Linked DNA regions of Homo sapiens: all the other regions are reported to be linked to region 1. The links are microRNA targets in miRTarBase. Many come from high-throughput screens and were not tested one by one. Region 1 holds a microRNA gene; each other region holds the end of a gene's coding sequence. Distances are from middle to middle.
Evidence for each region. Region 1 holds the annotated microRNA hsa-miR-942-5p (UCUUCUCUGUUUUGGCCAUGUG, at 1,715-1,736, opposite strand). A microRNA usually pairs through its seed, bases 2 to 8, with sites in the 3' UTR of a target mRNA and lowers its output. Matches are read on the target gene's strand: a 7mer-m8 pairs with bases 2 to 8, a 7mer-A1 pairs with bases 2 to 7 and ends in A, and an 8mer does both.

Region 2: miRTarBase lists GATD3 as a target of hsa-miR-942-5p. The part of its 3' UTR that is shown has no 7-base or 8-base seed match.
Region 3: the mRNA of ZSWIM5 is a reported target of hsa-miR-942-5p. Seed matches in the 3' UTR shown: 7mer-A1 at 1,214-1,220 and 7mer-m8 at 2,383-2,389.
Region 4: miRTarBase lists GNG2 as a target of hsa-miR-942-5p. Seed matches in the 3' UTR shown: 7mer-m8 at 2,594-2,600 and 7mer-A1 at 1,968-1,974.
Region 5: miRTarBase lists TRIB1 as a target of hsa-miR-942-5p. Seed matches in the 3' UTR shown: 8mer at 1,449-1,456 and 7mer-A1 at 2,275-2,281.

What each region holds. Positions count from the first base shown.
Region 1 is chr1:117,091,555-117,096,390 of GRCh38, reverse strand. MIR942 (microRNA 942) reads right to left here and starts at 1,748; the gene lies at 1,663-1,748. It overlaps TTF2 (transcription termination factor 2), which reads right to left. Exons shown (of 23, transcript NM_003594.4): 17 at 4,441-4,574; 18 at 3,490-3,660; 19 at 1,024-1,082; 20 at 92-242.
Region 2 is chr21:44,144,075-44,148,910 of GRCh38, forward strand. GATD3 (glutamine amidotransferase class 1 domain containing 3) reads left to right here. Exons shown (of 7, transcript NM_004649.8): 7 at 747-1,637. The coding sequence ends at 875. Among named protein-coding and RNA genes, the nearest start is that of GATD3, 13 kb to the left of the region's middle. RefSeq lists an enhancer at 2,129-2,788.
Region 3 is chr1:45,014,898-45,018,897 of GRCh38, reverse strand. ZSWIM5 (zinc finger SWIM-type containing 5) reads left to right here. Exons shown (of 14, transcript NM_020883.2): 14 at 1-2,499. The coding sequence ends at 444. It overlaps UROD (uroporphyrinogen decarboxylase), which reads right to left. Exons shown (of 10, transcript NM_000374.5): 9 at 3,892-3,958; 10 at 3,323-3,561. The coding sequence ends at 3,400. Among named protein-coding and RNA genes, the nearest start is that of UROD, 4.6 kb to the right of the region's middle.
Region 4 is chr14:51,965,655-51,970,490 of GRCh38, reverse strand. GNG2 (G protein subunit gamma 2) reads right to left here. Exons shown (of 4, transcript NM_053064.5): 4 at 696-3,932. The coding sequence ends at 3,804. Among named protein-coding and RNA genes, the nearest start is that of RTRAF, 21 kb to the left of the region's middle.
Region 5 is chr8:125,435,908-125,440,743 of GRCh38, forward strand. TRIB1 (tribbles pseudokinase 1) reads left to right here. Exons shown (of 3, transcript NM_025195.4): 3 at 99-2,496. The coding sequence ends at 564. Among named protein-coding and RNA genes, the nearest start is that of TRIB1, 8.0 kb to the left of the region's middle.

The DNA of each region.
Region 1 (4,836 bases):
AGACAAAAACAAAAACCAACCAAACAAAAAGAATTCTCTTTGTATAACTCAGAACAGTTAATTATGCGGCTCTGATGTGACCAGCTTGTACCTGAGGGCCTCTGGAGTGGTTAAATGCCTCTACCAAGTCCATTCTCTGCTTGGGATTGACAGAGCCATCGATGGTGGCATAAGTCAGTCCATGCTTCTTCAGGTGCAATGCTACAACTTTCAGCATGTTGGTCCACTGAGAGACAATGACACTGGAAAGAAGAATAAAATAAAAAAATACCCTAACATAGATTAAACAGACTCATCTGCAGGGCTTTAATGCCCTCATCATTCTTAAGGTTAGCTATCAAATGTTGACAAGGAAAGGCCTTCTGCTACCTAAGGGAGAAGGCACACATTTAGGTCATATCTGAAGATTATAATGCTTCCAGTTATTTCTAGGTCCTTTCTACAATTTATTTAGTGCTAAATGAAGTCAGAAAAAAATGGTAGCTAGAGTAAAGTGATGACTCCAGCCTTCTTTCATTTGGGGTCCTAGTGCTCATCCAGAAATCTGTGGTCCTGCACAAAAGGGACACACTGACCACCCTTCTTGTGCCAGCCAGAACAACAGGCTCCTCCCTGCCCCCACGCTGTCTTAATTCGAGTTCTAAATTTTTATATTGAATTATTTTATAAATAATGCAGGTGTATAGCACATATGTCAGGTATAACAAATGAGTCCTTGTATCCAAGTACTCAGCTTAAGAACGTTATCAGCACTGCTGGAGCCTCCTCACTCGCTTGCTTTTCTTTATATGCTTCTCTACTTTTAAACACTTTTTCAGATGCTTCGCTTACCCTGATCCTCTAGGGATCTCCTTTTCAATTTGTACCACAAATATTTTAATTAGAAATCACAGGGAATGTGTGCTATAACCTCAGTGCTTTCTGCTGAGCATGACTCACAGTCCTTGATTTATAACTCTTGGCAATATCAAATTTTCTCACATAATTATGACCAATACTTGGATAATGAGAAAACGCAGTTACCTCTTTTGGGATGCTGAATTTCTTTGAATTGCCTCCAATTCTGCCAACAGAGATGAAATCTGGGAAAAGGTTACATCAACATTGTATGTTTAAGCAATTCACTTTTCTCCATCTCCCCTCACCTGCCATGCGAAGCAGCCTCCTACATGGCGTCTGTGCTCTGGCCTCACCTGTCTTTATTCCACCCTCCTCTCTGCAGCCAGAAAGCTCTTTCTAAAATGTGAGTTTGTCACTTCACCCCTCTGGCTAAAGCCCTTCCATAGCTTCCCACTGAGGATAAAGGCCAAGCTCCTCAAGGCAGCTTGCCGGATTCTTGCTGCTCCAGCCTCTGCTTCTCTGGGTTCGTTTCTCACCATGCCCTCCTCAAACGACACAGCAAGCACACCAAAATTCTTCCCATAAATCACACACTGGCCATCTTGTCCATTCTGCTCCCTCTGCCTAGAACACCCTTTTGTGTCAGCTTAATGTCACTTCTTCTTGGAGGTCCTCCCAACCCCCAAAGTACAGGTTAGGTGCCCACTGCCCAAGTACTATCATAGCACCTTTTGTTTCTATTATCACGGTCCTTGTCATACTGTATATTAATTGCTTATTATCTCTTGCTTCCAGGACTTGAGACACTCCAAGGAGGCAAATATTAGGAAAGTAACTTCTCTGTTTCGGCCATGTGTGAGGGGCTGTGAGTACACACATGGCCAAAACAGAGAAGATACTCTCCTAATGTTTGCTGAAGAAGAAAGTGAAAGAGCTTTACCCACTTTATGGCCTGCTCCAAATGTTGTTGAAAAGGACCTGTCCAGACGGAGGAACCATTGTTAAAGCTTCCGAACAGGCTCCCTGGGTATTCCCCAAGAACCCTTAGGGTGCACTTGAGTCCACAGGGGAGCTGTCAGTAAGAACACGTGGGGCATGACTTTGGAGTGCAGCTGGGCTCATTCTTCCCAGCTGCTCATGTGAAAAACCTTTCAAGAGCCTCTAAGGGCCCCAGAGTTCACCCCCAGAATGCTGGAGAAGGAAGAAAACTGGGCTGTAAGTCAATCAGGAGACAAATATACAGAAGTTCTTCCTCTGTCCTCATATGGCTGGACCACTTTGGGACTCAGATTCCTCATCAGTGAAAAGAAGGACTTAGGCCAGATAAATTCTGAGGTGCCCTGAGCTCCCACATTCTAGGATGTCATTACAGTGGTCACCACATGGGGCTGCTTTCCAATCTTAACAAACATTCTGGTGCCTAGGCAGGAAGTGAGTCACAGAACTGTACCATTCAAATTAGCAGACAGAAAAGCAGCTACATCTGTTATTTAGTTAACAATAGAACAGAGACACTGATGTGCCTGGTGTCTTGGCAACTTGAGATTGTGGAAGGCGCTGTGACTCCCACATGAAAAAGCTAGCCATGGTGTTTTGAGAAAACTGCAGCAGGAGGGCTGGATTTATGGCCCACGAGCCGGGGTCAAATTCCAGTAAGAAGCCTCCTTCCCTACTTGAAACAACCGTATGTGGTTTGAACTATTAATGGACATATGTTAAGAAAACTTGTGAATAAATATTACCTGCATTTAATTAAACAAGGAACACAAATGATTAGGAATTTAAATTTTAGCCCAATAGCTCACTCTGAAGGCACTAGCATGTGTGTTCTGGCCACATGGGATGCTCTTCTTATGTTTCTCTCAGCTATCAGTGGTAAAGACCTAGGTAAATGTTTTCAAATTTTAATTAAAAGGCAGCATTCCTTTTAAAAAATAATGCCATTCCCCTGGAAGTGACCTTTCTAGTTATTAATACACTTTTTCAAAAAAAGCCTTTGAAGAGAGGTTGAGCCCAAGAACGGCAGCTTGAGATGCTAAGAGAGAAACAAGCCTCACTTTCAAGACAGGCAGGATGATGAAGCACATTCCGAGCCAGCAGACAGGCAGGATTCAGGTTACGGCATATCTAAGCCTTCCTCCAGCAGAATGTTTCTGCCTTAAAAAGCTCTGACGAAAACAGAGCAGAATGACTAATGAAGACAGAAGGCTATGTAGGAAACACTACTCACATGTGGAAGCCTTTCAAAGTCAGAGCAATTGGCGCTCGCATGTATGACACAGTCTCTAGAGTCAAGCCTTTGTTTTCCTTTTAAGCTTTCTCTAAACAAATTGCTCACTTGCATAGGCCCCGTCCCTAGCACAAACCTGGCAAGCTCCCCAGTGACCCATGACAGAAAACCCACTTCAGTGCAATGCTGGGGTTGTCCCAAATTACTCTCTCAAAGTCCCCTATGTAGTAAGGCTTTAGTGTTATCTGTGAAATAAATGAAGCTTTAAGACTGGAGGGAGAATCTGATCAGCTAGAATTTAACGGCTCTAGCTCTGCTGGCAAATGGCTGTTCCCACTTGGACAAATGAAGTGCTGTCACACAGGAAAATGTGTGAGGAATCGAAGTCTCTCGACTACTACAGAGGAGACAAAAAGTACCTTGGTGCTCTCTCGCATGCCTTCAAAAAGCTCCATCTTGAAGAAGGTGCCGTTAAGGGAAACAGTGGAAGATGGCTCTGAGTCACGGAGTTCTGACAAGGTCAAAGCACTGAGCTGTTCTTCCAGGGAAAGGACAAGACCTTCACCCTTCAGTTCCATTGGATCCAGGGCCTGAACAGACAAAAAAGGACAGGAGCAGCTGGGAGTCAAGGGAGCAAACCTTGTTACTTGTTGATGATGTTTTGATTGTTTACCACTTCACAGAGCAAAATATCTTGTAATTTGTCATCAGTAACTCCTCAAGACACCTTGATTAAAGTGTGATCTTGCAAGTTTTTTCACCACATTAAAGATAAACCAAATGATGGAACTTTTTAAAGACTTGCCAGGCAGATGACATAATCATTCTATTTTTTCCAAGCTAGAATATAATTGAGATGTTGATAATCAGAATACATTATTACAGCTCCTTAAATGAATAGAATACTCCTCTTAATTTTGGATGTGCCTCTATCCAAGGTAGGGGCAACTTTTCAGTCTGTATAACTATCTGAGTTTTTATAACTGGAACCCAAAACCCCAAAACTGCCTGAAAGCAGAAAACCCCAAGAACTAAATTAGCTTTATGACATTCTGAAGTACCAGAGCATTCACAAATGGCTTCTTTTTAAACAAAATATCATTTTCTTTTCTTAAACAGTTAATCTAAAACAAAATAAACAATAGAAATACACTATTCTTGATGCCATAGGAATTATCAAGATTAATATGAAATAAAGCAAAATAAATAAGCCCCCTTTTCTCCAACCCACCAAAAAACAAAAATAGAAAAACCGAAACAGCATTTCCTTTGATCAAGCAGACTGGATTCCAGTTGGAGGAGAGTGAAATTGACTTCTCAGGTGGCCCCTCTGGAGCACTATATGACAGCAGGCTGAGGGCTTTTCTTACCGACTTCAGTAAAGAAAGATGACAGCAACACTGGCGGAGTCTCAGCAACTGGGACAGTATGTGGACGGTGCTGGATCTCGGTGAGTCTGCTGCCTCCGAGTGTCTAGGCTCCTCAGACCCAAACTCCAGTGCCACTTCCAAGAGGGAAGACAAGCCACAGGATGGTACAGGATTTAAAAGAGAAATACGGAGAGAGCCAGGAACTACATGGGGCTACTTTAACCATGTTTGATCTCAGACTCAATAATATAGTTACAACTCACTTCTATAGGCCACTTCAATTAGGCCAAATGAAATATCGGTTTTTCCTTATAGAACTACCTGCATTTTAATAAAGCAGATTTAGGAAACAATTAAAAAGAAGCTAAATAAACACCAGATCTCGTGTTTGCAATC
Region 2 (4,836 bases), not on the chromosome of region 1:
AGTAGAGCATGGACCCGGTCCCCTGCAGGTGTTGTTCTGAAGGGTGCAGTTCCTCTCAATGGGGCAGCTTTTTTCTCACAGGCAGCTTCAGACGTCAGGCCCCATCTCCCTCCCTGCGGCTTTCCTGCTGGGCAGGAGCGCAGTGCAAGGCTGGCCCCAGGCCTCTGACTGCTTGCAGGAAGATAGGGGCACGTGTCTTGGGTGGTGTGGAGGCCTGGCCAGTGGTTACATGCATGGTGTTGGGGAGGCTCAGGTCTGTGGCTGGCCGGCCCCAGTTGTGCCACCTGCTGCCCTGTTGCCTGTTGCCCTGCCCCATGAGGACCGGCTCCTTCACGGCCAGTTCTTCATCTGAAAAGCGGAGGTGCTGCCACTGCCTCCCGTGGTGGTTGTGAGCACCCCAGGCATGTGTGCGCCCCCATGGCGGGGCAGCTCGTGGCCATGTGTGGGTGTTGGGCCTGTGTGATGCTGGCATGAAAGGTGCCCCGTTCCCTGGAATTTCCCGCTGCTTTCTTCCTCTAGAATGCATGTGAATTGGGAACAGGTTCCTTCTTATGTTGTTCAGCAGCATAAATCATACAGAAAGCAGGGTCCTGCCGGCACAGACTGCACCAGGAGCGAGTTCTCCTCTTCCAAGTTATCTGAGAACAAAGTTAGGACACGCGGTGAGGGTGGGGGAGGGGCCGGGGCTCCACACCTGAAAGTCCCTCAGGTCCGTGCTGGGTGGCTTTTTCCGTAACTCTGCACACGAAGCTCACGTGGACCAGAAAAACAAGGTGGTCACGACCCCAGCCTTCATGTGCGAGACGGCACTCCACTACATCCATGATGGGATCGGAGCCATGGTGAGGAAGGTGCTGGAACTCACTGGAAAGTGACGCGCATGGACGGGGCCCAGCTAGGCGCCAGGACTTGGCCTCACCCTCTGGCTGAGGAGCTGTCGGCTGCTTTCCATCCAGCTGGGAGTCTGGCAGGCCCTTTTTTTTTTTTCTTTGCCGAAACCTGCAGGCGTTCTCTCTCTAAGGAGGATGTGCTGCAGTGCATGGGGGATGTTTCTTCCTGGGTGTGGCTGGGCTGCTCTCACATACAGAGGCCGAGGGGCCAATTCGTTCTCTGCCACAGGGACTTGCCTCACTGTGTCCCAAAAACAAATCGCAGCCAGCTTTTCCAGAAATAGAAAATTCTGCCGTCTGAGGTTTTATACTTCAGGTTAGTTAGTTTTTGGAAGGAAGAACATTTTTAGGTTTGCAAGCCTCCTGATCAGGAAACCAGAAATACCACATTTATGGACCATGAAAGGTTGGTTCTTGACTCTGAAGGGACTTTTGAGTTAATCAGCGTAAGGGGATTTCTAAAGCAGGCAATCCCTGTAGCCGCAGAGAATAAACGCCTTCCCAAAATGGCAACTTCCCACAGCCACATTTCAGACCTGCTGAGACTGCTGAGTGAGGAATGGCAGTGAGGTTTCTTCAATTAGTCTCAGTTCTCTTAATTTTCAGGAAGAAAGGGAAATTGCAGCCCCTCAGCCCCCAGGATTGACCTCTGGGGAGTGATGGTAGCGTTGGTGCCAGGCCGTGGGTTCAGGTGTGGCAGAAGCTTGCAGATGCGTCCGAAGGGAAATAAAGTGTGTTGGCGTTAGACTTTGTGCTGCATTCATCTGTGTGTTCAGGGTTGTTTGGGGAAGAAAACATTTGGGGTGGGAGTCAGGTGTCTGCACGCTTCACTCAGTGTCACATATCTGTTGCTGTTTGGGTCTGTCTCTGCCTGAGCAGCCAGGGCCAGGCCAGCCTGAGAGGCCCCACGCTGGGTGGGTGGCAGGAGCTGCCCAGTGTTGGGTGGCGGTGTGGGAAACGCCCACTCTGGCTGCTGGCGTGGCTGTTCCGTGTGGTCTGGTTTGCACCTCCCTGTGTGTCAGGTGCTGGGCCCGGAATGGGGGTGCAGGCCCTGGTCCCACAAGACTCGAACCCTCAATTGCACTGGTACCCACCACACCCCCTCGGCCCTCCCCACCCACTGCATGGAATCAGCGGATTCATTCTACCGCCTTGAGAGGGCGTGGGGGGCCCATGGGTAAGGCAGGAAGGCCCCGGTGCACCCTGCATCGGGTCTCAGCCGGACACTTCTGGTTCTTCCTCCGTGGGAGCTGGGTTCTCCAGTGGCCTTCCTCCCACGGAGGCCGGGCCTCAGGAAGTCCTCACGGGCGCCCACGCCCGCTGCAAACGCCCACAGCACTCGCCTTGGGGCCAGGATTACCCTGTCCCCAGCAGCGGAGGAGCCTCCCATGTCCAGGGTAAGGTGGGGCTCCTCCCCTTTCTCATAGGCTGGTAGGGACACATTTTGCATGGCTGGAGGGGGGGTACCCGTATACCACGCATGTTTATTCACGTGTGTGTGAGTGTATGGAAAAGTGCACAAGTCACAAGCATTCACTTTGGGGTTTCCACAAAGCAAATACGCAAAACCATCGCTCGGGCCTGGAACGGTGGCACTGTCCCCAGAGCCTCTCAGCCTCCTGCAGGCACTGGCTGCGTGCTTGTTTGCGCGCTCTCTCTGAGGTGATCCAGTGTGGCGCCCCACACGCAGGTGCTTCTGCTGGGCCAGGCCTGTCCTCACCTGCATCTGCCCTTAGCCCAGGTGGCCCTGTGGGTCCTCAGTGTCCCCACTTGCAGATGAGGCTTTGCTCCCCCCAGGGCCCTGCAGCTTGTAGGGCTTGGCTGGGACTCAGCTCCGGGCAGCGCAGCACCAGAACCCCAGCCCTAGAAATAGATCTTGGGACGTTGGGAAGCCCAGAGAGGGGCCGTGACAGAACCGGAGAGCTTGGTCCTGGGTTCACTGCAGGAGAGTTTGGTCCTGGGTTCACTGGACAGTGACTCCGTGGCTGCTGCGTGCCAGGCACCTTCAGGTACCAAGGGCATTGTCACGAGCATGCCCTCGTCCTGGAGTTCAGGTGGGGGCAGCCAGTATGTGGCCCGGTGAGCCATGGAGTCCCCCTGGCAGTGGTGGGGGTGTGGACATGCTGGGAAGGAGGATGGCAGTGCCAGGCATGCATAAAGTGATCAAGGAAGGGGACAAGGGGTCCAGTGGGAACAGGAGCTAACCAGGGGTTCAAGGTCAGGGCGTGGGGAGGGAGGGGCGCTGGTGACATGCATGGTTCCCGGGACCAGCCCGTCCTGCCATCCCAGAGGCCTCTGCATCCCACAGGCTGTGCACCCTGGAACGTGGTTGTGGCTTTAGGTGCTGCCACCAGGGGGCGTGGCAGAACTGTCTTTGGGGCTGACCACGGGCAGGCGGCCCCTCACCAAGCTGCTTCCTGTTGGTGCCATCAGAGTCTGGGCTATCCTCTCCTGAAGCCCTCTCTGGTCTCCACATGCCCCACCCCTTTGCCCTGTCCCTCTTGTTTCCTTCCAGGGTACCTCCTCACCTCCTGTCCAGGTCACCAGAGCTTCACCTGTGGACATGCCCCATTCCCTGATAATCCTTTCTTCATTCTCCATTTCTCCACCACTCCCAGCTCCCCCAGCACTCCCAGCTGCTCCACACTCAGTCCCCTGCTCCACACTCAGCCCCCAGCTCCCCCACCATTCCCAGCTGCTCCACACTCAGCCCCCAGCACCCCCACCACTCCCAGCTCCTCCACACTCAACCCCCAGCACCCCCACCACTCCCAGCTGCTCCACACTCAACCCCCAGCTCCCCCACCACTCCCAGCTCCTCCACACTCAACCCCCAGCACCCCTACCACTCCCAGCTCCTCCACACTCAACCCCCAACCCCCCCACCACTCCCAGCTGCTTCTCCATTCCCACCTGTTCTTCCTTCCTGGTGTTCTTCTCCCCAGACCTGGTCTGACTGTCCCTCCCAGTCCCTCATTACCTGGGGATGGACGTCTTCCGCTCTGACCTCCAGGCTCTCTTGAAGGCTGCTCCTTCCCTTTCTCCCCCTGAGCTCCTTGCTGTCTCAGACCCCTGCCCAAGGAGGCCTGTAACTCCAGCCCTTCTCTGTGCACTACACTTGGAGTGGGGTACCGCCCACTCAGCATATCCAGACTGGGCCCCCCACGCGTACTTCTTCCTGTCTCTGTCTTGGGGGCCATCATGTGCCCAGATCCCCATGAGAAACTGGTCCCAGCCACCTGTTTCTCCCTGCCCCTCCCTCTGCCGCCAGCTATGGGTTTTGCCTCCAAATATGTCCAAGCCACCCCCTTCCTCTCCTGTGCCTAGACCGGGTTCATGCCTACTCCCCACATCTGGTCCTGACACCTTCCATCCCTCCCTCCTGGGACGACCAGCCCCCCTCTTTGTATTACTGGCTCCCCTTGTCTCTCGGCTCTCAGCATCACTCTGCAGAGAGGACTTCCCAGCACGCCCTGGCTGAGGAGGGGTCCCTGGGCCACTCGCTGCACAGATCTCGAGGTCTGTGAGTACACATGTATCACAGCTTTGTCATCTGTCTCCCCACTGCACTGGGAGTGTCAGGAGAGAGGATGGGGGCCTCATGGGTGCCCTCCACCTTCCCCGGCCAGGCCCGGGCTCTGAGGTGGTGGGCTCTGGGCATGAGCAGGCCAGTGCGTGCTGCGAGGCCCAAGGCTCACGGACCTGACACGCCCACCTTGGTGCCCGCCCTCTCCCAGGCCCCTCCCACCTACTGCTGGCCAGCGTCTTCCTCTAGGGCTCCCTCAACATCACCTTTTCTGTTTTGTTTTAAATAGACTTTATTTTCTAGTGCAGTCTTAGCTTCATGGCAAAATGGAGCAGAAGGTACAGAGAGTCCCACACACTCCCTGCCCCCACGCATGCACGGCCTCCCTCACCATCACCCCCGCACACCCCCGCCCGCCAG
Region 3 (4,000 bases), 72 Mb from region 1:
ATCAATGATGTGCTCTGGGCTTGTGCTCTCAGCCACTCTCTGGGCAAGAATGAGCTGGCAGCTCTCATCCCCCTGGTGGTGAAGAGTGTGCACTGTGCCACAGTGCTTTCAGACATCTTACGACGCTGCACAGTGACTGCACCTGGCCTGGCCGGCATCCCAGGCCGCCGAAGCTCTGGAAAGCTCATGTCCACTGACAAAGCTCCATTGCGCCAGTTGCTGGATGCCACCATCAATGCCTATATCAACACTACACACTCACGCCTAACACACATCAGCCCTCGCCACTATGGAGAGTTCATTGAGTTTCTAAGCAAGGCTCGGGAGACCTTCCTGCTGCCCCAGGATGGCCACCTGCAGTTTGCCCAGTTCATCGACAACCTCAAACAGATCTACAAAGGCAAGAAAAAGTTGATGCTGCTGGTGCGAGAGCGCTTTGGCTGAGAGAGCAGATAGCTCACTGCCAGAGCAGCCTGGGTTCCCAGGTAGTATCAGGTCAGGCCAAGGGCACTGAAACATTTGTCCACCCTGAGAGAACTCTGAGCACCTGTGGATGAGGCCAAAGGACCACAGGGCTAAGGATGGGGAAAGTCCAGCTCTAGTCGATAATGCCTACCTTGGCAAGCTTCTGACTACAGCCTACTGTTCATGGAGGAGCTGGGCCCTGCAGATCGACCAGAAACCCCACAACATGCCACCTCATGCCCCTATATCCTGCGTGTCCTGAGCATTGGCCCTGTCTCCCTTGGCAAACACAGAACACTGTTCCATCTCAGGGATTGCTTAACCAGAGAAACAGACACATTTGTGGGACTGTAAATACTATATGTGTTGCTAATTATTGTAAACTTGTAACTATTTATAATTCTGCTTCTGATTTGATGGGCACTTGAAGTAGCTGTGGGTAGGAGGATATGCTTATTTTCTGAGGAGACTCACAACCATTTCTCAGGTTTCCCTTGCAGAGTGTTTGCTGGTAGCAGTGGAAGAGTGGGGGTGCCAAGGAGAAAAATGGCCAGTTAGGATCAACCCAAGTCTAGTCTATGCAGAATCCCCCACCTACAGACAGGGCATTTATAGTCCAGTGGTGAGTGAGGGACAGAGGCCAGGACTGGACTTAGACTTTTGCCTCACAAAACTGTGAGGACATTGAAGCTCCTGCCTCACACAGCCTCTTCAGGAGCCTGCTGAACACCTGAGAAACAAGTGCAGGGAGAAGATGAAGGTCTGGGAAGCCGCTGAGTTCATAATATTCATCTACTGTGGTCACCTTTGTGTTAGCAAGTGTGTGGTTTCATCTATAATTGTGTGTGTGTATCTTTATGGCTAAGTACATGTGTGTATGTACATAGATACATCTGTGCATGCCTGTTTGTGCACATATATATTTATGTGTATGTGTCAGTTCTATGGCTGTGTACCTGTTTGAATATGTGCACACTGGACTGTGAGTTTCTACGTGAGGATATACACATTTTGTGTACATGTGAGGATGCACATCTTTGTGCAAATGCACTCATGTTTGTGCATGTTTAGTATGTGTATCTGCGTACACGAGTGCATGTGTATAAACATGTTTGTATCCATGTGTATGCTTGTTATCCATGCATCTGTGTCTTTATATGTGTAACTGAGCGTATTTCTACATGTAGGGATGTCTGTGTATTCATGTTTGAGGATCTGCATCAATGTGTCCTTTTTGCCAGATTTCTCTTTCCCATTCCTCTTAAATCTCTCTCGCCAGCTAAACGTTTGTTCCCCATCTCTGTGCCTCCTCTATTCATTCTCTCACCAAACAAGCTTCTAAGCACCAATCTCCCTCTGCCATCAGATTGGCTGCTTTAGCTCCATAGTTCTCTTCTCGCCTCATACTTGCTTTCTTCCCCTGCCTTTCTACCTCAAGCTTCCTCGCCGGCTTTTGTCACAGTCTCATTGCTCGCTGACTTGGAGGCTAGGGCTGGTCTGCACTTAGCCTCTCCCTTCCTAATTTCTAGCCCTAGTGGGCAGTCCTGTCTTAGCCCTGGCTGACCTCCATAGTGTATCATGTTCCTGCTACCTTCCTGACCCCTGTGCTCAGCCTGGAATTGTTATAGGAGGTAGCAAGGGCACTCAGAAAAGTCAGTTGGAACCAGTGTCTTGGTGTTTACTGTTTCATGTCTTAGTTCCTGAGTTGGGGGTGGGGTTTGATAGGGAAGGGGTGGTATAGCTAGAATGTGAACTAAGAACTTCTCCATCTGCTTTACTTTTTCTTTCTTCGACAAACTGTCACCTTTTTTACTCCAAACTGACCAAGAAGTTGTATTTGCCATTTGTGGCTACTCAAGTCTTACTGTCCAGCCAAGGGCCCCTACGTCTCAGCCCAATGGGTTGGTTAAAAAAAAGAGAGAAGCCACTCTCATTTCTGTATCACAGTTGCCCTTTTTTAGCAAGTGTGTGAATTCACAGTGCTTTTCTATGAATAAATCATGGATCACATAAAAGATCATTTTTCTAAAAGCAGAAATTGTGTTCTCTCACTAAATGAAACCCATCTCTCCTTTCTGCATTGCCCTGGCTGGGCCAGGGAGCTGGTTCAGCCTACAGCACAGTGGGTGCCTAGTGGTCTAAGGAGATGCAGAATGACTGACAGATAAAGAATTTCTTGCCATACCAGACCCTTCCCCAGGGCTTACAGACACCTCAGAGCCTTGTCCTGGGAAGCAGGTACCACCAGGAAGGGTGGAATAACCAAGATCTTGAGAAAATTAAAGGGGATGCTCAGAAAAGAATATAAAGCAACCTTGAGTTGCCAGAGGGTCTTTTGGTTTCAGAGGACTTCTTGCTTTGGTGATGATCGACTTGTCTAAAGCTCCAATCCTAAGCAACCTAGCTCTGAGCTTTCATGTCCTCTATATATTTTGGTGTCAAAGCTGAGGGTCCCTCAGCTTCTCCCTGCTTGCCTAGACTCCATCTTCTTCCCCATGCCTCTCTGAAGTGTTCTAACCCCTTCTGTGCCCCTTTTTGATGTATACTTCCCTTTCTCCCCAGACATAAAGCCCTATCAATTTGGCCTTTGTATGTTGTGAGGACCCCACCCGTTTTTCTGCAAATGTCACAACCTGAACTGCTAGGAAAGCTCTACCCTACCCCATGTAGTTCTGGGACTTAGGTATCTGAGAGTAAGATGGGAATGAGAATCCTTAAGTGCTATAGTACATATTCACTGATACCTAACCCCCATGACTTGTGAAGAGGATATAGAGAGGGTTCCCAGGGAAGGAGCAGAGGCTAAGAAGAACTGAGGATATGGGCACAATCTTTCACAAACAAAACTACACAATAGTTCAACTCCGAAACTTTTATTGTCCTGGAAACGATCAATCATCTGTGTTAGTGGTACTTGAGGGTAAAGGTATACACTCAGTTCTGTCGAAGCAGACGTGAGTGTTTATGCACAGCATCCACAAAGGCGCCCACATGTTCTGGGTCCATGTCAGGATAAAGCCCATGGCCCAGGTTGGCAATGTAGCGATGTGGTCCAAAGTCATCCAGCATCTGCTTCACCAACTGCCCGATCTCCTCCTGGGGGACCAACAGGGCACTGGCTACAGGAGGACCAGCAAGCCTTTGTCCTCCCTATATATACTAGTGACAAACGCATATGTAGGCATGCTTCTACTCAGTGTTATTCAGTCATTCAATAAAATTTATCAGATCCCTAGTATGGACCCAGGCATGAAGCATAAACACAAATGAACAACAGCAACAAAAAGTCCGGTCTTTCTAGGGCTTATGTTGTACAGAGTAGAAGAAAAGGACAGACAGACATTAAAAACAAGTGCACACAGAATAATACAGCCACAGCCACAGGAGTGCACAGTAACAGACACACAGAGGGGCCCTGGCTGTTACCTCAGATGCATACAAGGCACAGGGGTCCAGGTTGCCCTGCAATGTCACCGTCTTCCCCACACACTCCCTGGAAGCAAAGCCAGCGCCACGTTCTGGTAACTGCATACAT
Region 4 (4,836 bases), not on the chromosome of region 1:
CCGCTTTGTAAAGAGGCATTCCAGGTATTAATACTCCTGGAGCAAGTGGTCCATGGACCACAGTCTGAGAAACACTGATGTCAGTGGAGCACTAGTGTGCAAACTCCAAGTGGCCCCCTTCATCCGTGGTTTAAAGATGCTGCTGTTGCTGGCACAAGTCCCAGGAGATCCAGTGTTTCCTTCTTTACTAACAGGGTCTGTTACTGGCATAATCTGAGGAACATTCAGAAGTCTTTCTCGACTAAGAAGATCTCCAAGGAGCAGCTGCATCTAGAGTTCTAAGGACTTAGCTTCTCCTGTACTCCTTTTAAATCACAGATAGCTACAGAGAACAGCACTTCTGTTGTTCAGTCTTTATTTTTCATAAGGGAAAAAGCCCACTGTGGCATACCTGCAGCAAGTGAAAGTGTAAATACAGCTCCTCTGTCTGCATACTCCACCCTATCAGAGCCCTGGGCTCTCCTCACAGCCCCCACCTTTCTCTGTCCCCAAAGGCTGTACCCAAGATGTACAGACCTAGTAAGAAATGCTTTTAGAGTGTCAAGTGAGTTTTTTCTTCTTTCGGACATCTCTATTAACAAAATCCTAAAGAAAATCAATGGATTCCTATTTCCTCATCCATTCATACCATCAGATCCTTCTCAAATTGACCACAGAATCAGTGGCCGTCACAATGAAATTGACTGCATATGAAATGAATCTGAAAATTCCATTTATTAAAACACATACATTGTCCATGTGGGATGAAAATGTGCACATCACATTCAGGTTTTCCTGCTTTAACATTTCTGTAGTTCTCTCTTTGAAACACACACTCCACAGATCTTATATAGGAAAAATGTGAACAACTTTTGGGCTGCAAAACATTAATGCATACATAACAATTCATCATTGCCAAGAGCAGCTAGAAGCAAATATTAAGGAAGAAAGACAAAGAAGTATAAAAATTCCTAAAGACAGCATGCTTTATTTTCTCAAAATTCCATATGTGACTATGAGCGTATGGAGAAATCGTTTGATTTTTAAATTTATTGTTTTGTCCTTGGTAGGCAATCTCCTTCAAATATTATTAGCAAAATCAAACATAGATCAAAGTATGTATTTGCATCTTCTGATTGAAATTAAACAGTACTTGGTTTCAAATGTTTTAAAAATAACACTTTTTAAACTGGAGTTGATATTGAGGATCATGTAAAATTATTCTTTATAGACTTTGCATTCTAAATATGAAGTTTATTGTTACTACTTATTAGTTAATTCCACGGCAGATTTTCATTTCTATCGAATATATTATATGTAGAAACTAGGGCCTTAAATAATTAAGCTGACTTTTCCTATTAGTTATTCCTTAAGATAAAATTATGCTGGTGAAAATGACTGTTGAATTTCTCAAGAAATTAAGCTCTATAGAGGCATAAGTAATCGAAAGACTTTTTCCCCTGAATAAGTACAAATACCAAGAAGCCAAAACTCATATAAAGATTTTCGTATTATAATTCCATACTGTAAGACATAAAATTATGAAAAAGCCAAAACATTTTCCTTAAAATGCTCCCTAGAAATTGTAATTCCATCTTAATTGCTCCAAAGATCTAGATTTACATGGAAATATAAAGAGTCCTTCTGAGAAAAGGAAATGCTGTGAATAGTGGAAATCGTCTGGGCCTTCTAATGATGCCTCAGTCACCACCAAAGAGTGTTTTATTCATTCATCCGTGTTTTCATGTGACCACATACTCAATTCATGTTTTGGCCCATGTAAAAACTGTGATATGTTTTAGCTTATTCCATAGTGTTACTAAGCTAATTGTACAATGCTGTAGTTTAATAAATACTCTGCTGTTTTTTTCACCCCTAAATCTTCATGGGCGTCCTAACTGTAACAAAAACCCCACAATTTGAACAGAAGAACAGAAGTATCTGGTTACAGAAGTGCATTCATACATTTCACAAATGTTTCAGTATCCTCTTCTCCCCGACCCCAGCATGAGCTTTAATTGGATGTATTTATTCTTTCACCAGCATGCCCATGAAGGAGCTAAGGAAAACATTTACCAAGTCTGTTTCAAAATCTGTCCTTGGCATATCAAACTTTTTCTCTTCCTTTTTCATGCTTTTTTTTTAAAAAAAAAACAGGAGAAAGCGAATAGAGAGGAAAGAGACAATAAAATTAATTGGGAGATGGAGATGATATTTGGGGATTTGAAAGCAAACAAGATGTAAGAGAGGCCCTCTTTGACTGAAAATGACACAGAAAAAGGTGATCAAGTCTTCCAGGGCCTGCTGTTACTGATGGAGACTACAGCTACAATGAAAAATTACTCTCACTACCATATCTTGGGGAAGGAGCGCTCTAGTTGCAAGGAATTTGTAAATAAAGGCCGAGAGACTCTAACAAACAAGATGGAGAACAAAAACAAAGATTCCATTAAAAAATTTGTTAAGTGAAAAACCAAGACCATCTCAGTGGACAAAAGAGCCAGAACTCTTCCTCGTAGAGCCGGCCGTGGGGACCGCACCTGCCGCCCAAAGAGTGGCGATTTGAGGTCCTTCTCCCTGGAGAGTGAATAGCTGGAGTTCTGAGAATGGTCACCTTCTCTGGAGCTGTGGGTTTATTTCTTCTGATACTTGAACAAAGGAGGGCCATGGTTTTCTTGTTAAGAGCACAAAAAAATGTTCTTTTAATCTAGAATGTCCATGATTCAGGGAAAGAGGGAATTTGCTCATACTCATGGCAAAAGCATTTCCCAGCTCATGGTGAATCCTTAACTCTCCTGCTTGGTGACAGCTGTGCTGCCCTGGGTCCTGGATAAACCAAAATGCTTTGGATTCTGGAAAACGTATTGAAGAGGCATTTATACCACTATTAACTAGGAGGTATTTTAGGTGTGGCTAAGGCTCTGAAGTAATCTCAATTTTCAAAATACTGAGATTTTCTTCCCTCTCCGGGGTCTTTTCCCTCTCATTTCCTTTCCCAGCTTTAGAGTAAAACAACAAAACTTCTGAATGGATGTAACATAGGGACATTTTCATGCAATATTACTCAAAAATTGTCACAAATATATGAAAGCACCAGTCACAACACAGGATTTACTTTTACTTGCAGAATCAAAGCTATCATGTACACATGTTAGGAATAGTGAAAAGAGAACACAGACAACCGGCATTTTTTGTCGTTGTTACCATGAGGATACACCACGGGGAACATCTCCCTAAACATTTTGTGTGATCATTCTTGGAGTTCAATCTGATAGACCAGTCCAGCCTTATCTCCACACTACTCTAATGGGGAGGGGTGGAAGGAGGGGTAGAGGAGAAGGAAGAAAGAAAAAGAAAGGCACAGTGACTATACATCAATGCCATTAAACCGAATTGCATCTACACGGGACAGCTCAGCTTATCAAAGGGTATTCTAAAGACAATATTCATTCCAAGAAGGTCACACATATCTTACCTCAGTACAGCTGTCTGTTTTAATTGTTATTTTTCAAAATATGAAGCAGAAACATGAGGATTTTGGGGGGGGGGCTGGGGGATAGCAGAAAAGAAGTGACACCAATTTTATTTTTATATATTCCCCTCCTCCAGGCAGTTCGTCAGAATCAGATCTCTTAAGTCAGGATGTGGATCGGCTTGCATTCTCATAAAGGGGACCAGATCTTTAAACATGCATAGCCTAGAGTTTCCAGAATGGTTCTCCTCGCTCTCTTCAAATGCCGTGGACTAGAAAGGTGCCCACTTCACTAAAAACTCTACATCAATGTCCCAGGAGCCCGGAGGCTCTTCAGGCCCCTCTCAAAGACTTAAAGGATGGCACAGAAAAACTTCTTCTCCCTAAACGGGTTTTCTGAAGCCGGAACAGGGGTCAGGAGGGGGTCTTCCTTGGCATGTGCTTCACAGTAGGCCATCAAATCTGCAGCTGCCTTGGACACCTGGAAAGGGAGACAAAAACAACCAACACTGGAGTCTGGTACAGTCAGTCAAGGCCCAAGGCTTTAGAGCCCAATGTCCTGGCATCAAATCCTTGCTCCATGAAGCAAGATACTCAGCCTCTAAAAGCTTCTGCTTCCTCATCTGCAAAGAAGAAAGTTGACGACACTGACCTTACAGGATTGTTGCCAGCAAGTCTGGGACTAGGTTAAGGTGAGTGAGGCACTTAGGGTGCAGAACCGAAGGAGGCACTCGCTGGCAGGGGCATGCAGGTGTCAACCCTGCACTTCCATAGCCCCGCAGGTGGCTGTCTCCTTCATTTGTTTTTTTTTTTTTTTTTTTTTTTTTTTTGAGATGCAGTCTCGCTCTGTTGCCCAGGCTGGAGTGCAGTGGCTTGATCTTGGCTCACTGCAACCTCTGCCTCCTGGGTTCAAGCAATTATCTTGCCTCAGCCACCCTAGTAGCTGGGACTACAGGTGTGTGCCATGGTGCCTGGCTAATTTTTTGTACTTTTGGTAGAGACAGGGTTTCACCACGTTGGCCAGGCTGGTCTTGAACTCCTGGACTCAAGTGATCCACCTGTCTCGGCTTCCGAAAGTGCTGGGATTACAGACGTGAGCCACTGTGCCCGGCCCTCCTTCACTTTTGTGCTCCGATATCTCATTGCCCCACCCTGGTCCCAGCCCTGGTAACAAGGGTTAAATGAAAAAATCCCTGTAAATCATTTAGTGTCTGGCACATAGCAAGCTTTCCACACAGGCTAGCCATTATTATCATTTTGTAGTCGTGACTCTCTGCTTCAGGAATTGTGCTAGGGATGCCTAAAACCATGTCAATTTCCCTTTTTAAGCAGATGCAGCAGGAGATATATCTATGTATACACACACTATATAGAACATATTTTTA
Region 5 (4,836 bases), not on the chromosome of region 1:
GCCTTTGCTGTTAGTGCCTGTGGGCGCTGTTATTGGGAAGGCTTTGTTTTTCATAGCAGCTGGTGTGGAAATAATGGCTTGGTTCCTCTCTCTTGCAGAACCCAGCTTAGACTAGAAAGTCTAGAAGACACACACATAATGAAGGGGGAAGATGATGCTTTGTCAGACAAACATGGCTGCCCAGCCTACGTGAGCCCTGAGATCCTCAACACCACTGGGACCTACTCCGGAAAGGCTGCGGACGTTTGGAGCCTGGGGGTGATGCTCTACACCCTTCTGGTTGGACGATACCCCTTCCATGACTCAGACCCCAGTGCCCTTTTCTCCAAAATTCGGCGTGGACAGTTCTGCATTCCTGAGCACATTTCCCCCAAAGCCAGGTGCCTCATTCGCAGCCTCTTGAGACGGGAGCCCTCCGAGAGACTCACTGCCCCCGAGATCCTACTGCACCCCTGGTTTGAGTCCGTCTTGGAACCCGGGTACATCGACTCAGAAATAGGAACTTCAGACCAGATTGTTCCAGAGTACCAGGAGGACAGTGACATTAGTTCCTTCTTCTGCTAATCCCCAAAACCTCAGAAACCTCATAATTCTTAACACCTGGCATTTCCATTTCTAAAGATGGACAGGCCCTTTGGCGTGGTACCAACCAGATAATGACTGCATCAGGATGAAAGCTGCTGAACTCGGCATGGCGCCTCCTCTTCTCTGTTGGGATGAGTGACTTTATTGATTTGAGCAGCATATGCTGTGATTGGCTGCCCTGCAAATTTGTTTCCCTTAAGGAACCCTCACCAACTATCTCTGCTGGATTTGGGAGTTCCGCATCTTTTGTGGAGGGCAGAGTATGGACATCTTACACCCGGTGGTCAAGTGTGTAATAAACTTGAGCATTCGAATGGGAGAAAAAGCAAATCGCACAATGACATATTTTGAGTAATAACCGTATTTTTCACAGGGTGACAAATTGGGCCAATAAATCTGCCATCTTTGAACTCATCTTTGGTGGCTAGACTGCTACGGCAGCTTCTCTGATGGGAAAGTTCCTTTTTTGGCTTAACACTCACCCTTTCTTCACACTCACATTTACCAATGACTCTGCTCCGTTTTTGGAGCAGACTGTTTTAAGTTGCTCAGGAGCCTGATGGAACCATGAACCGAGACTCTTCTCTGTTTCCTGCCAAGACCTCATCTGCACTAATGCCTTCTCCCTGACCTTGACACTTCCCCCTTTAGCTATAAAAGCACTTACCAGCCGAACGTGGAACAGTATCACAAAAGATTCCATCTCCCAACGATTTCAGAACTCTGAGCTCAGAGAGACTCCAGATTTTAAAAAATAATTTGAGTGCTTGGAAACTATTAGCTTTTTAAGTTCCTTCCAAATATGTTAGTACCTACCCTTTACTTTTTCCCCAAGACCATCTCAGGGTGGAGCATTCTGTCTAAGAGAAGAAAGATAAGGAGGCTCCCACCCACCTCTCCCAAGAGCAGACATTAAACATCTTTGTGCTTTGAAGAGAGTGAATTTTGGATAGTCTTGTGATTCTCAGACTAACTTCCAGAATTATACTTTAACCCCTCCCAGATATGGTCCGCCTTTGGCATTGTGTGTACATCTGCAGTTTTGCATGGTGGGTTGTTAATATTTCAAATGTGTGGTTTATGAATACGTCTGTATAATCGGCTTCTGGAGTGAAACAGCAAACCCCAAATCTTCAAAGTTGGAAGGAACTTTAAAAATCATCCGGTCCAATCTCTTTCCTCTTTCTGCCACCTCCCAAGGCAGAAATCCCCTCTTCAGCTTCTTTTGTAGGTGGGAATCCAGCCTCTGTTAGATATGTCCAGAGATGGAAACTCACTCCCCTACAAAAGATGGAGCTTAATGGAGAAATTGCAACTTTCATTAAAAAACAAATTCAGATGAAATATCAGTAACTGTCTTGGACAGTGCTGAAATCAGGTGGTTAAACGGGTAAACAAAATATACTGTATTTTGAGAAATGGCACAAAAACAGGCAGTCATCTTTAAGGGCTATGCCTAGGCAAACTACTAACATGCATTGTGAGAATGCCGTGTATACCTCACGTACTGTGTACTTTGTACATATATTTTACCTTTTATACCTATGTTCGATTTTGTTTTGTTTTGTTTTGTTCTGGCTTTGAGGCTTGTTTTGTTGTCTGTGTCTGTCTGAATAACCTGCGTGTCTAAAACCACGTGAAATGTGAATGATTATTGGCAATATTACCTTGACAGAATCATGGGACTTTGAGAAGAGGGAGGACAGAGGCCTCTGTCGCACTAACGCTCTCGTGGTTGCTCGACTGTTGTATCTGTGATACATTATCCGACTAAGGACTCTGGGCTGGCAGGGCCTTCTGCCGGGAAAGCTAGAAACACTAGGTTCTTCCTGTACATACGTGTATATATGTGAACAGTGAGATGGCCGTTTCTGACTTGTAGAGAAATTTTAATAAACCTGGTTTCGTAAATAGGTGTGGTGAATTTCTTTCGAGTTCCATCTGCTTTGCCTTTTGCAATTTCATGCAGAGGTTGCAAAGGTCTCTGGCCTCAGGACTTACAGTCTAGTTGGGGGTGAGCAGCAAGGGGAAGGTGGAAAAGTAGAGATGATGAGGATCATCGATGACCTTTGGCAGACTTGAACCCATTTGCTTTTCTCATTTCAGTGGGCAAATTTATTTTGATGGATGAAGCCCATTGGGTGTTGATACGTGCTTTGGGTTGAATTTAGACTCGGGAAACATTTTTTATTTTTTATACTCTTTCATAGCAGAATCAGAATCAAGAAACGTTTGAAGGTGAGCATTCATAAATTAACCTTGAGTTGTAAAAATCAGCTTGTCTTTTTTGGGCCGTGGACCCTTGAGAATTTGATAAAGCTATGACCACTCCTGAGAACAGTGTCACATGTATAAAACAAAATTTTGTTATCATTGCAGAGGTTCACACAGATCTCTGAAGGCATCATGGGACTTCCGATTGTGAACCAATCCCTCTTCATTAGACTTAATTAAAATGGCTAAGCAAACCATTTTCTTTTTTTTCTTCTCTTATTTTTTGAGACGGAGTCTTGCTCTGTCGCCCAGGCTGGAGTGCAGTGGCGCAATCTCGGCTCACTGCAACCTCTGTCTCCCAGGTTCAAGTGATTCTCCTGCCTCAGCCTCCTGAGTAGCTGGGACTACAGGCGCCCGACACCATGCCCGGTTAATTTTTGTATTTTTAGTAGAAACGGGGTTTCACCATATTGGCCAGGCTGGTCTTGAACTCCCAACCTCATGATCCACCCACCTTGGCCTCCCAAAGTGCTGGGATTACAGGCGTGAGCCACTGCGCCCGGCCAAGCAAGGCATTTTCTTTCTTTTACTTTTTTCTTTCCATAAGTGTGAAAATGGAAATAAAAGCAAGGAAAATACTAAGGTGACATTAATTTGAATCACAAAAGTAGAGAAAGGAAAAGAGTTTTTTATTGTTTATAGCTTAACTATTTATAGCTTCACTTCAGAATCTAGTCTAAATGAAGTAAATTTGTATCCAGATTGATTTTTAAAAATACTTCACATTGTAAAATGTAACAACAGAAAAATGCACATATAAGTGTGTAGCTCAGTAAATTTTCACAAACAACACACAGGCATAACCAATAGATCTAGAAAGCAAAACACTGGGAGGGCCTCAGGAACCTCTGCCTGCCCTTTTCAATTTTTGCCTGGTGCCTGCTCTAAGCGTAACCACCATGGGATGGGATTTTAATTCTAACCTGTATAAGTTAGGATGAGGACCAATTCATCAACTCTGGACTCATACGAAGAGGCAGACAGAAGTTAGTGATGACACAATTACCCTTTTTTAGGACTCAGGCTGGGATTGGCCAGGAAAGCAGACACTGAAGTTAGAGCAACTCAGGCCTTGTGACCCAGGAACTTAAGAAATGTAAAAGTCATCTCAGAAGCAACGTGGGAAATGGCCAAATGCCTGGGTAGCTTAGGAACTCAGAAGTTGGGGGTTGGTCTCTGGCCATCCCATGAATAGGACTTTAAACCCCAAAGTTCCTGAAGCAGGCCTCACAACAGACCTTGTTGCCTGCTCCAGTGAACCCAGACAAGGCTCAGCGTGACTTCTTGGGCATTCAGGATGCTAATACTTCGGACTTCACCGAGGTTTTAATCTAAGGATTTCAAAAGACTTTGCAAGCAATTAAGGTTATAACACCTCTTTGTACTGTTGTTGCATGAACCAGATGGACAGAAATATGGGTCAGGATTGGCTGGGATGACATGTGATACCACAAATCCATACATTTAATCTCTTCTAAGGTTGGAACAAATCTGGGGCAATTGCAACCAGTTAAATTATATAAGGTCAGAATGAGTGTGCTGAAAAGCTGGCTGCTTTTATTTTCCCCTGTGTCATCAACATACTTGTCATTTGAGGAAGTCATCCAAGTAACATCTCAATAACCTTTTATTCATGTCATATTTTCTGGAAGTTTCTCCTCTCCTCCCCAGGGAGTCACAGCACATGAGTGAAACAGGCAAGTCAAATATTTCCCTGAAGTTGAAAAAACAGAGGCTCAAACGTCTTTCAGTAGCTACTCAGGAGTAAGCAGCTCAGAGCTGGGATATGAACTTGGGTCTTTGGACTCCATGCCCAATGTTGTTGCTCTGCCTACACACCACCACACAAAGTCTCCTGGTAAGAATAATGATGAGAGAAAGTGGTTCAAGACAAATACAAATACTGAATTTTTAGCTCCACAAATGTCTTCAAATGACCCAGTATGTCAATTATAAATGTGTAGGCATTATGGAAGA